3 linked regions of the Homo sapiens genome follow. The protein of the gene in region 2 interacts with the protein of the main gene of each other region in a pairwise test. Each region holds a gene or a part of one and is shown on either strand. Other genes may lie near its edges. The genes, in order: NKX2-3, GTF2A1L and MAFF.

The links.
Region 1: the proteins of GTF2A1L (region 2) and NKX2-3 interact in a two-hybrid assay, tested with the Homo sapiens proteins (one large-scale study listed by BioGRID and IntAct).
Region 3: the proteins of GTF2A1L (region 2) and MAFF interact in a two-hybrid assay, tested with the Homo sapiens proteins (one large-scale study listed by BioGRID and IntAct).

The regions. Positions count from the first base shown.
Region 1 is NC_000010.11:99,531,419-99,535,173, reverse strand, and holds the start of NKX2-3 (homeobox protein Nkx-2.3), read right to left. Parts: upstream 2,233-3,755; 5' UTR 2,043-2,232; coding exon 1,685-2,042; intron 444-1,684; coding exon of another isoform or gene 217-443; exon of another isoform or gene 216-216; intron 190-215; coding exon 1-189. UniProt on the Homo sapiens protein: Transcription factor.
Region 2 is NC_000002.12:48,673,316-48,676,970, forward strand, and holds part of GTF2A1L (TFIIA-alpha and beta-like factor), read left to right. Parts: intron 1-3,655. UniProt on the Homo sapiens protein: May function as a testis specific transcription factor. Binds DNA in conjunction with GTF2A2 and TBP (the TATA-binding protein) and together with GTF2A2, allows mRNA transcription.
Region 3 is NC_000022.11:38,211,973-38,214,634, forward strand, and holds part of MAFF (transcription factor MafF), read left to right. Parts: intron 1-1,600; exon of another isoform or gene 1,601-1,711; coding exon of another isoform or gene 1,712-1,734; intron 1,735-1,850; coding exon of another isoform or gene 1,851-1,881; coding exon 1,882-1,917; intron 1,918-2,447; coding exon 2,448-2,662. UniProt on the Homo sapiens protein: Since they lack a putative transactivation domain, the small Mafs behave as transcriptional repressors when they dimerize among themselves.

The sequences.
Region 1 (3,755 bases), on a different chromosome or scaffold from region 2:
TGGCGAGGTGCTCGCGCTCGGGTGCCGACAGGTACCGCTGCTGCTTGAACCTGCGTTCCAGCTCGAAGACCTGGGCTTGCGAGAAGAGGACCCGGGGCTTCCGGCGGCTGCGTGGCTTCGGCCTCTCGCTCTCCTCCGCCGCCTTGCAGTCTCCGGCCGTCTCTAGAGACTTCTTCAGCTGGCAGCTTTCTGCGGAAGAAGCAAACAACAGCGTCCTTAGCTGTTCCCGGCCGCACCGCGGCTCCTGTCCTGGAGCACCGTGACCCTTTTTGGTGGCTGCGCAGAGCGTGCGGTAGTAAATGGCTGGACTTTTGGGAACGTTTGTGGCTCCTGGCGCTGTGGGACCCTGAGACAGCCCCAGTACCCAAAGAACGCCCTTAGCAGGCGGAGGCGCGTTTCGTGGAGAGGGGTAGTTAGTGCGTGTTTATTTGGATCTTGAGCATCTGCGAGAGAAGAGATTACTCTGTATTAAATATGCGGCTCGACGTGCTAATGACTATTTTCAGGATGAAGGCTTGCAACTACATAATAACTACAGTATTTGCAAACTCGTTTGCATTCTACTCCACCAAGGATAACTGAAGGTGTGAGGCGTGTTGGTATGAGTGGGCCGGTGGGCATGGGTTGCGCGAAAATCTGTTCTGAGTGTAACGCTTGTGCATGGCTCAGGGACTTGTGTGTGTGTGTGGCTTATAAAAGACTACAAGCGAATGTTATGACGACATCTGTGTGCACTTTGAAAATGAAGTTTGATTGACTAGTTATAGACAGTTTCATGCCGATTTTCGGCTCTGGGAACTATGAGAGCATAGGCCTTGGCCTCTGCCACATCAAACCGCCTCTTGGGGAAAGACTGTGATTCTGTCCTCTTAAATACACTTCCTTGGGGACTTTATTTGATTATCCCATCTCCCTATCAATTCACTTCCCATCCGATGTGAGCAGCCAAGATCTCGGACTCAAGTTCGGCGCGTTTTCTATTAGGCCCGCAGCCTGGGACACAAAGCAAAACGTTACGGATTTTCAAAAAAGGCTGGCGCCTTAGGGATGTGAGAGCTATGGTCGCGCGGAATAGACATTGTTCCCACGCACTTTCCGATCATCTCCTCTCTCTCTACCGAGTGCCACGGGTTCAAGGACGCTGAGCTCCAAGCAGAGAAGGGAGGAAACCGCCCAGCTGGCCTCCACCAAAGTTCCTGCCCCTGCGGGTGCGAGAGACACAGGCTGCTTGGGCTGTCTTTTCGGAGAAGAAGGGGTGGCTGCCCTGGGCTAAGAGAACTCATCTCACCCTAGAGGGAAAACGAAAAAGGTCCAGGCTCCTGCCCTTTTTGGGGGAAGAGCCTTTTGGGGCGGGGGGAAGAGCAAAAATACTGCCAGTTATGAGGACCCAGGCGCTGAGCCCACGTCGCCTCTCAGCATCAGGGCAGCAGTAACCACCTTCCCTTCCCTCATTTCCCCCTTTTGGGGGGAGTAGTTGTCAGGGTCACCTCGTCCTTGTCTCTCCACCCCGGCTCCCTTGCAGGTACCTGCGCTTTGTGGAGCTGTCGGTGACCAGGGCGGAGGCATGGCCCCAGCCAAAGGGTAAAGGGATGGGCAGCTGCGCTGGCAAGGTCTGTGGGCTGTTTGTGTGCGCTCTGCCATTGCTCCAGGTGTGCGGGTGCGTTTTCTTTCCCCCTCTACTCACTTTGGCTCCGGTCCCTCACGACCTCGGGCTCCTCTTCATGTTCCTTGGGCTCGCTGCACGAGTCTCGCAGGACCGTGTGGACATAGCCCTGGGGACACAGCCCTGAATCCCCGTGGCCGTCTGCTGCGGCTAGTGAGTTCAAATAGGACAATTTCTCGCCCTCGTCTTCCTCGTCCTCCTCCCCTCCGTCAGAAAATTGCGTCCCCTCAGCGGCGGCCAGCATGCAGGGCGCAGAGTGGAAGTGGTGCTCCAAGTCCGCCTGCAAGTGCGCACCATGGAAGTGCTGGTGCTGCTGCTCCAGATTCAAAATGTCTTTGACTGAGAAAGGGGTGGAGGTGACCGGGCTTGGTAACATCATCAGGGCCACTTAATTGTCCAGTCCAAATAATAAATCCCGGCGGGGGCGGGGAGGCAGCGCGGCGGCTCCAGCTCTCCTCCTGGACTCCGCCGCTGCTGCCGAGTCGGGCTTTTGACAGACGCGGTCCCACTCCAGTCTAAATCGCCTCCATTGGCCGGGACCTGGGGGTCTGGGTTTTGTTACAGCCACTGCAGGGACTGGGGCCCGGGCTCCTAAGCCTCTGTCCGGGAGATTTGCGTCACGTTGGGGGGGCGGGGCTGGCGCCCCAACCTCCCTCCCTATAGGTTCTGGCTCATGTGGGCCACGCCCCCTGCTCTCTGCGAGTGGGATGTTGCGGCTCTACCAGAAATAGACAAGGACTAGTATAGAGTCCTGAAGTCCGAGACGCTGCGGGCGAGGCTGCACAGATCCGGTTCCTGAACCATTGATTCCCGCGTGGCTGCACCTTCCCGACCTAGGCCAGTTCTGGGAGGCTTGCTGTCCACGAACCAACGCCAGGGAAGGATGCCCCAGGAGTGTGTTTTTTTCAGCTGCTGCGCGGGGCAGGAAAACTTCCTGGCGGGTAAATACTGGGCGCTGGATCCACGAGGAGATGCAGTGTTTTATCTATCTATGGGTGGGCGACATGTCCTTTTTCAACTTGTTGCCTTTGCTCAAGCTTTCTCTCCACTTGGAACATGTTTCTGACACTTAGCCTCCACGAGTGGAAACTGTTCTCCAAGGAAGAGCTCCTAGATCGTCTAGCCGGAAGTCCCCTCTTTCAGGCTCTGAACCTGCAGCTTGTGTTAGCAAAGGACATGCATGTCACTTATCACTTCCCACTTAATTCTATAGCTGTATGTGCCTGCCTGGTCGCCCCAGTTAGACTGTAAGCTCCATGAGGGCAGTGTCCCGGGGTTGCTTTTGCCCTTGTATCCCTGGCAGCAGCCGCACAGAGCAGTATGTGAAAGGAAGATAGAGTTATGACTAAACTTTGGTATTCGACAGCTCTTGCTTGGCCTAGTCAGTGTGTGATCTTCGGCGTTTCTAAGTCTGTTTTCTCGTCTATAAAACGAAGGCAGTAATACCTTTTTTGGTTGTTGCTAGGGTTGAATGAGGCAAAACATGCCAGAATCTTAGTGCACGGCCTCACGCGTGTTAAGCGCTCAGTACGTGTCAACGACTGCTTTTCTGTATGGGAGGTCAAGCAGTGTTTGTTGACTGCATTGGTGGTGCGTGGCTGGAGTGTGGCACATACTGAGAGCAGGATCTGTCCTCACAAGGGAGGTGACCCAGCCTTGGCAGCCTTCTTTTCCACCTATTGAAATCAGGAGCCTGAATGTAGGCCTTGCCTCTCCGACAGGCTTTTAAAATTTCTCTACCTACACGCCTTCTGGCACCTTCATGAGGCCCTGGTTGTTTTCTGGGGGAGTCTATACAGTCCCCCACAGATTCTGGAAACTCTGAGCTGGAAACTCTGGGACCATCTTCTCCCACAATAGGCATTTGCTCGCTACCAGGCCTAGCCCAGTGAGGAGCAGCGGGCGCTGCTTTGAGGGCCACAGAAAGACCCGTGTGCAGCGCTGGCCTTAAAAAAATAGGGAACGGTTCCAGCTCAACCGTGGCTGTCCTCATCCGGCCCCAGCCAATCCAAGCATTTTTTGGCGGTCAGGATGGCGGAGCTGAAAGAGACCCGTCTCACCTGGAAGGGGCAGGTGAAAGGTGCAGGGACGG
Region 2 (3,655 bases):
TCATTCAAATTTATTTTAACGTACATTTTACTGACACAGGAAACTTTTTTTTTTTTTTTTTTTTTGAGATGGAGTCTGGCTCTGTCGCCCAGGCTGGAGTGTAGTGGCGTGATCTTGGCTCACTGCAAGCTCCGCCTCCCGGGTTCAAAGGATCTTCCTGCCTCAGCCTCCCAAGTAGCTGGGACTACAGGCGCCTGCCACCACGCCCGGATAATTTTTTGTATTTTTAGTAGAGATGGGGTTTCACCGTGTTAGCCAGGATGGTCTGGATCTGACTTCGTGATCTACCCACCTGGGAAGTGCTGGGATTATAGGTGTGAGCCACTGCACCCAGCCGACACAGGAATATTTAGAAATGAAGACCCAAAGAAACAGGGAAAACTATTTTTCTGGACAGTCATACCGAAGTATGATAGGAGGAAAAAAGGATATGATCTAATGACAATAAACTGGAGGAAACGTAGTAAGGCCTGTTTGTTCAGATTTTTGTGTCTCTGTGTCTTCAGAGATAAGGACACTTATTTTCCTTTGTGTATAGGGTAGGGACCTCTGTAATAAAGGTTTTATGACTTACTTTAAAGGAAGGTCAGATAATCCTTTTATGGCCTGGTTCAGGGGAGAAGGGTGAGGGCAAGGTCAGAAAGACTTTCCTGCTTCTGCCATTTTTTCAAATGTCAGGATGCCAGAACACATATGGGGTAATGTGTTCTGAACCCCATAGATACCTTTTTGCTGCTATGAATAATGCCTCTATGAACATTTGGGTACAGGTTTTTGCGTGGACATATGTTTTCATCTGTCTTGGCATATACTCAGGAGTTGAATTCCTGGGTCATGTGGTAACAGCTTAAGGAACTATTAGACTATTTTCCAAAGTGGCTGTACTATTTTACATTCTTATTAGCAGTGTTCGAGGGTTTCAATTTCTCCACATCCTGGCCAGCACTGGCCATAATCCGACTTTCTAATTCTAACCATTCTAATGAGTGTGAAATGGTATATCATTGCGGTTTTGATTTGTGTTTCCCTGATAACTAATGCGTATTTACATATTTAGCCTTTTTTTTTTCCAGTCACAATTTGAATATATTTAGGGGGAAACAAAGAATAATGTTTTGAATTGCTGTAAAAAGAAATCTTTTTCTCTGAAAATAAGGTCACTTTCTCCACTATAACATTTTATACAAATAGAAAACCGCAATTTAGATGCTGAATACAAATATAAACATAAGAAGGAATAGGGGATAGAAAAGGAACAGTTCTTAGTTTGAAACTTGTTTTAGTTTCTTATAAACAATATATTGCCTTCTATAAAAAAACATTATAAGGTACTTAATTATATATACATTCCATAAAGTCTCATGCAGAATTTTCTAGACCATTATGGATGTGGTATCCTTTGTTTGCCGCAATGTGGGAGATACCTTGTAATTAATTATGTAGTACTTTGTATTTTTGCGGTGTTTTATCATATATTATCTTTTGTTTCTTATAATAACCTTATGGAATAGATAGAGGTGATATTAAATATACACTGCTAACAAATCTAGTATCTGAGAACCCTTCTACTTAGTGAATATTTTAAGAACAGTGGTAAAAAATTAATGGAAAGCAGGGCATTGGGGAACCATTGAAACATTTTAAAAGGGGAGTGATGTAGTCAGAAGATAGCCAAAAGAATGTATCTAAAGGTCAAAGTGGGGTGAGGAACACTGTTATAGTGAATCTTTATGAAAGAAAAACTTTCCAGTGCTGGTCACTGGTTGATTTGTTTCAAATAGTATTGAATGTAACCCAACTCAAGTGAATTGAAAGAACTTTCAGTAGTCTCTTTTAGAGCTTTACTAATTCAGTGTGTTTTATGGGCTTAGCACGCTTTTGTTATGCCACTCTGCTAACTTACTCAGCTTATTTTAAAGGCAGGTAGTATCAGTTCCTCTGGGAAACTATTACAAATGCAGAATCCTGAGTCCCACGCCAGAGTACTGGATAAGAATGTACATTTTAACAAGACTCCAAAATGATTTGTATGGCCGTTAAATTTTGAGAAGCAGTGTTTGGTTTCTTTAGTATATTTTATTTGGATTTGATTAACAGATGGAATTTATCTTTAAAATTTAGAGATTAACAATTGGGGGGAAAACTTTGAAAATATAAACATGTACAGTGCAAAAGGGCTAAATGAAGGCCACTGGTTTACATACTGGGTGAGAATTAGTTAAATGGTATAGATATTTTGTTTCAGAGGCCTAGAGAATGTCTAAAATTAATATAAGGATTTAAATAATAAAGATATTATAGCGAAAATTAATGGTGAAATGAAACCTTTTACTACAGATGGAGGTGTTCTGTGCTACAAATAGGACACTATTTATAGTGGAATGTGAAACCATTTGAATATCCTATATCTTCGTTTGACAGTTTAGCAGACTTGCTTATAGCTGACTTTATCCCTTAGATGCTATACAATGATTAATTTCTAGGTGTGTAGCATGGTTTCTTTATATATACAGAGAGAGATATGTATATATGTGTATATATAGTCTCTTTATATGTATCTATATATCTCTCTATATAATAGTCTATATATATGTACATTTCCTTTGAATAGATAGTGCATACACATGGTTAAAAAATCAAAATACTGTAAAAAGGTATACAATGAAAAGTCTGGTTCACATTCCTTCATCATTTTTGCTTTCTATTAGTAGCTCCTTTTCCTGTTTTGAATGCAAATAAGTAGTTATATTAGTTTTCATCGAATTTCTTTATTCAAATACAAATACAAAAGATAGCATAAATAACACTATATTCTGTACCTTGCTTTTTTTCTTTAAACAACGTATCTGTCAGATCTTCCCATATGAGGAGGCTTTCTTTGTGATGATATTTTAATGGCTGTATAATATCCTATTGTAGGATTACTAAAATTCATTTAACCAATCCTCTACTGATGGATATTTGTGATTTTTCAGTCTTTTGATTTGAACCACTATGTATATAAGACATTTTCATAATGTGTGCAGATATATCTATTAAATCCCCAGAAATGGGATTCTGGGTCAAAGGGCAAATGTACGTGGTTAGGTATTCCCAAAATGCTCTCTAAGAGCATTTTGCCATTGTGAAAGATGAAAAGTGATACCTTGTTGGAATTTTTAACTTTCCATATGTTAAAGGGCCTTTTGTATTTACATTTTGTGAACTGTTTGTTCATAATCTTTGTCTATTTAAAAAATTGGATTATTTGGTCTTATATTTAGTGATCTCTAAGAGCTCAATATTATTTTGGAGAAAATGAGCTTTTTGTTATACACAGAAGTACTTTTTACTCAGTTATTTTCATTGCTTTTTCTTTTCAATATGTAGATTTTGGATCTGTCAATCTTTAATTTTATGTCTTCTGCATTTTGAGCCATGAATAAAAAGTTCTTTCTTACCTCAGAGTTTTAAAGGGAAGCTCATGTTTTCTTCAAGTATTTCATATATATCTATATATCTATATCTATATCTATATCATCTATATCTATATCTATATCTATATACTCAAGTCTTGATTCATTTGGTGTTTGTCTTGGTGTATAATGTAACATATGGTTTCAACTTTTTATTTTTTTTTTTCCAGGTGGCTACTCAATCTTCCTAACATTTTTTA
Region 3 (2,662 bases), on a different chromosome or scaffold from region 2:
TCTTCCTTTGTTTTCTTTTTATTTATTTATTTTTTTTGAGATGGAGTCTCACTCTGTCACCCAGGCTCCCAGGCTGGAGTGCAGTGGCGCAATCTCGGCTCACTGTAACCTCCACCTCCCAGGTTTAAGCAATTCTCCTGCCTCAGCCTCTCAAATAGCTGGGACTACAGGCATGCACCACCACGCCTGGGCTAATTTTTGTGTTTTTGGTAGAGACAGGGTTTTGCCATGTTGGCCAGGCTGGTCTTGAACTCCTGAACTGAGGTGATCTGCCCGTCTCAGCCTCCTAAAGTGCTGGGATTACAGGCGTGAGCCACCGCGCCCAGCCTATCTTCCTTTATTTTCCTTGGCTTCTTATCACTGCCCCCTCCCCTTGGAGACAGATGAGAAAACTCAGGTTCTCATGGCGGAGAACCTGAGAGGATTGGCAAAGTAGATCCTATCAGCTAGAGACAGAGAGGACTGCTGCTTTAAAGGGGACTTTGGGAGATGGTCCCCTTCTCCAGCCCAGAGCAATGACCACTGACCCTCCACGAGTTTTATTCACCTTTTTCTCCCCATTACCAAGTACATGTTTGGCAAAGAGCTCAATAAATAGTTGTTGAAGGAGCATGTGGCTGTCAGGCCTGTGGGAGGGAGGATTAGGAGATGAGAGGCCCTCATTGGTCTAGGGATGGCTGCCCCATCTGCCTAGGGCATGCTGAGTTAGTATGGGGCAGCCCCCAGGAGGTTGGGAAAACTTTCCCAAAACAGAGGTCTAGATGAAGGAGGCCTGGGGAGAGAGGGGACTGGCTGATGTTGTATCTTACGGGGTGCTGGATGGGCTTTGTGTAAAGGCATTTACTGGTGCACATATGCTGTGTGTACTTTTCTGTATGTAGGTTATACTTTAAGAAAAGTTCTGAAAAATTGGCTGGGCACAGTGGCTCACACCTGTCCAGCACTTTGGGAGGCTGAGGCGGGTGGATCACCTGAGGTCAGTAGTTCAAAACCAGCCTGGCCAACATGGCGAAACCCTGTCTCTAAAAATAAAAATAAACTAAAAATACAAAAAATTAGCTGGGCGTGGTGACAGGCACCTGTAATCCCAGCTACTTGGGAGGCTGAGGCAGGAGAATCCCTTGAACACGGGAGGCGGAGGTTGCAGTGAGCCAAGATCGCGCCCCTGCACTCCAGCCTGGGTGACAGAGTGAGACTCTGTCTCAAAAAAAAAAAAAAAAAAAAAAAAAGAAAGAAAGAAAAAGAGAAAGAAAAGTTCTGAAAAATCAAATCAAAGGCACATGTCCAAGCCCCATGTGGAAGAATGGTCAGGAGAGGCACATCTATTCATTTGGTGCACACTTACTGAGCCATCTACTATATACCAGGCACTGATTTAGGCATATTGATGCCGTGGTGAGACAGGGAAGGCCTCTGCCTTCATTGGCTTCCGTTTTGGTGGAGGAGGAGTGGGAAGGAGAAACAAATCATAGATGAGGAACCAAGCATGAGAAATGCAGAAGAGGTGACTGTTACAAGGGTTAATAGGCGGGGTTATGTGATGTGACACAGAGGCGTTTAGCCAGAATGGTCAAAGAGGACCTCCTGAGGAGGTGACATTGGGCAAAGACCTAAATGATGAGGAGTCACCATGGGGCTAGAACAGTAAAGAGCACAGCCTGTGCACAGCTCCCGCGGCTGGAAGGAGCCATTCAAGGAGGCCTGTGGACCAATGTGGAGAGAGGAAGGTGGCAGGTATGAATCAGTTCTAAGATAGCAGAGGCCTTGAATGGCAAGGTAGTGAGTTTGGATTTTATTCTAAATGGGAAACCAAAAACAAAACAGTGACTTTGACCTCCTTTCTACCCTAGGTCTGCAGCCCAGAGGGCACCTTCTGCAAACATGTCTGTGGATCCCCTATCCAGCAAAGCTCTAAAGGTGAGGAGGCAGCCTCTGTCAACCCAGTGAAGCCCTCCCTCCCTGCCCATGCAGAGCCTCCTCATCCCAACTTCCCCTTCTTTCCTGGAATCCCCTGGGTGGCTCAGCAGGCACCAGGCCTTCATGATGCCAAAGGGAAGGGCCACAGCCATGGGCTGGGACCAGGAGGCCTGGGCTCTGGTCACAGGCTGCATGTCCCTGGGGTAGGTCACTTCCCTCTCCAGGCCTCCTTCCCCATCGGGTCAATGTCCCCTGGGGCATTCAAAGGTGCTTTCCGACCTGGGTTTCTCTGGCTGAGTCCAGGGCTTGGCGCTAGGTTAGAATTCAGGCTGAGCCCCGGGGTGGCCTCCTTTTGTGTCCCGATCCTAGTCTGGCCCGGTTTCCCCTTCCCGGATTCCTGCTCCCCTTCGGGGTTTTGGATCAAGTCCACCCACCACCTCGGCGGCTAAGGCGGTGAAAGAGGAACACCGCGGGTGGAGCGGGGGGGCCCGTCCCCAGTCCCCTGGACCTCAGTTTCCTCATGCCCGCAGATCAAGCGAGAGCTGAGCGAGAACACGCCGCACCTGTCGGACGAGGCGCTGATGGGGCTGTCGGTGCGCGAGCTGAACCGGCATCTGCGCGGGCTCTCCGCCGAGGAGGTGACACGGCTCAAGCAGCGGCGCCGCACACTCAAAAACCGTGGCTACGCCGCCAGCTGCCGCGTGAAGCGCGTGTGCCAGAAGGAGGAGCTGCAGAAGCAGAAGTC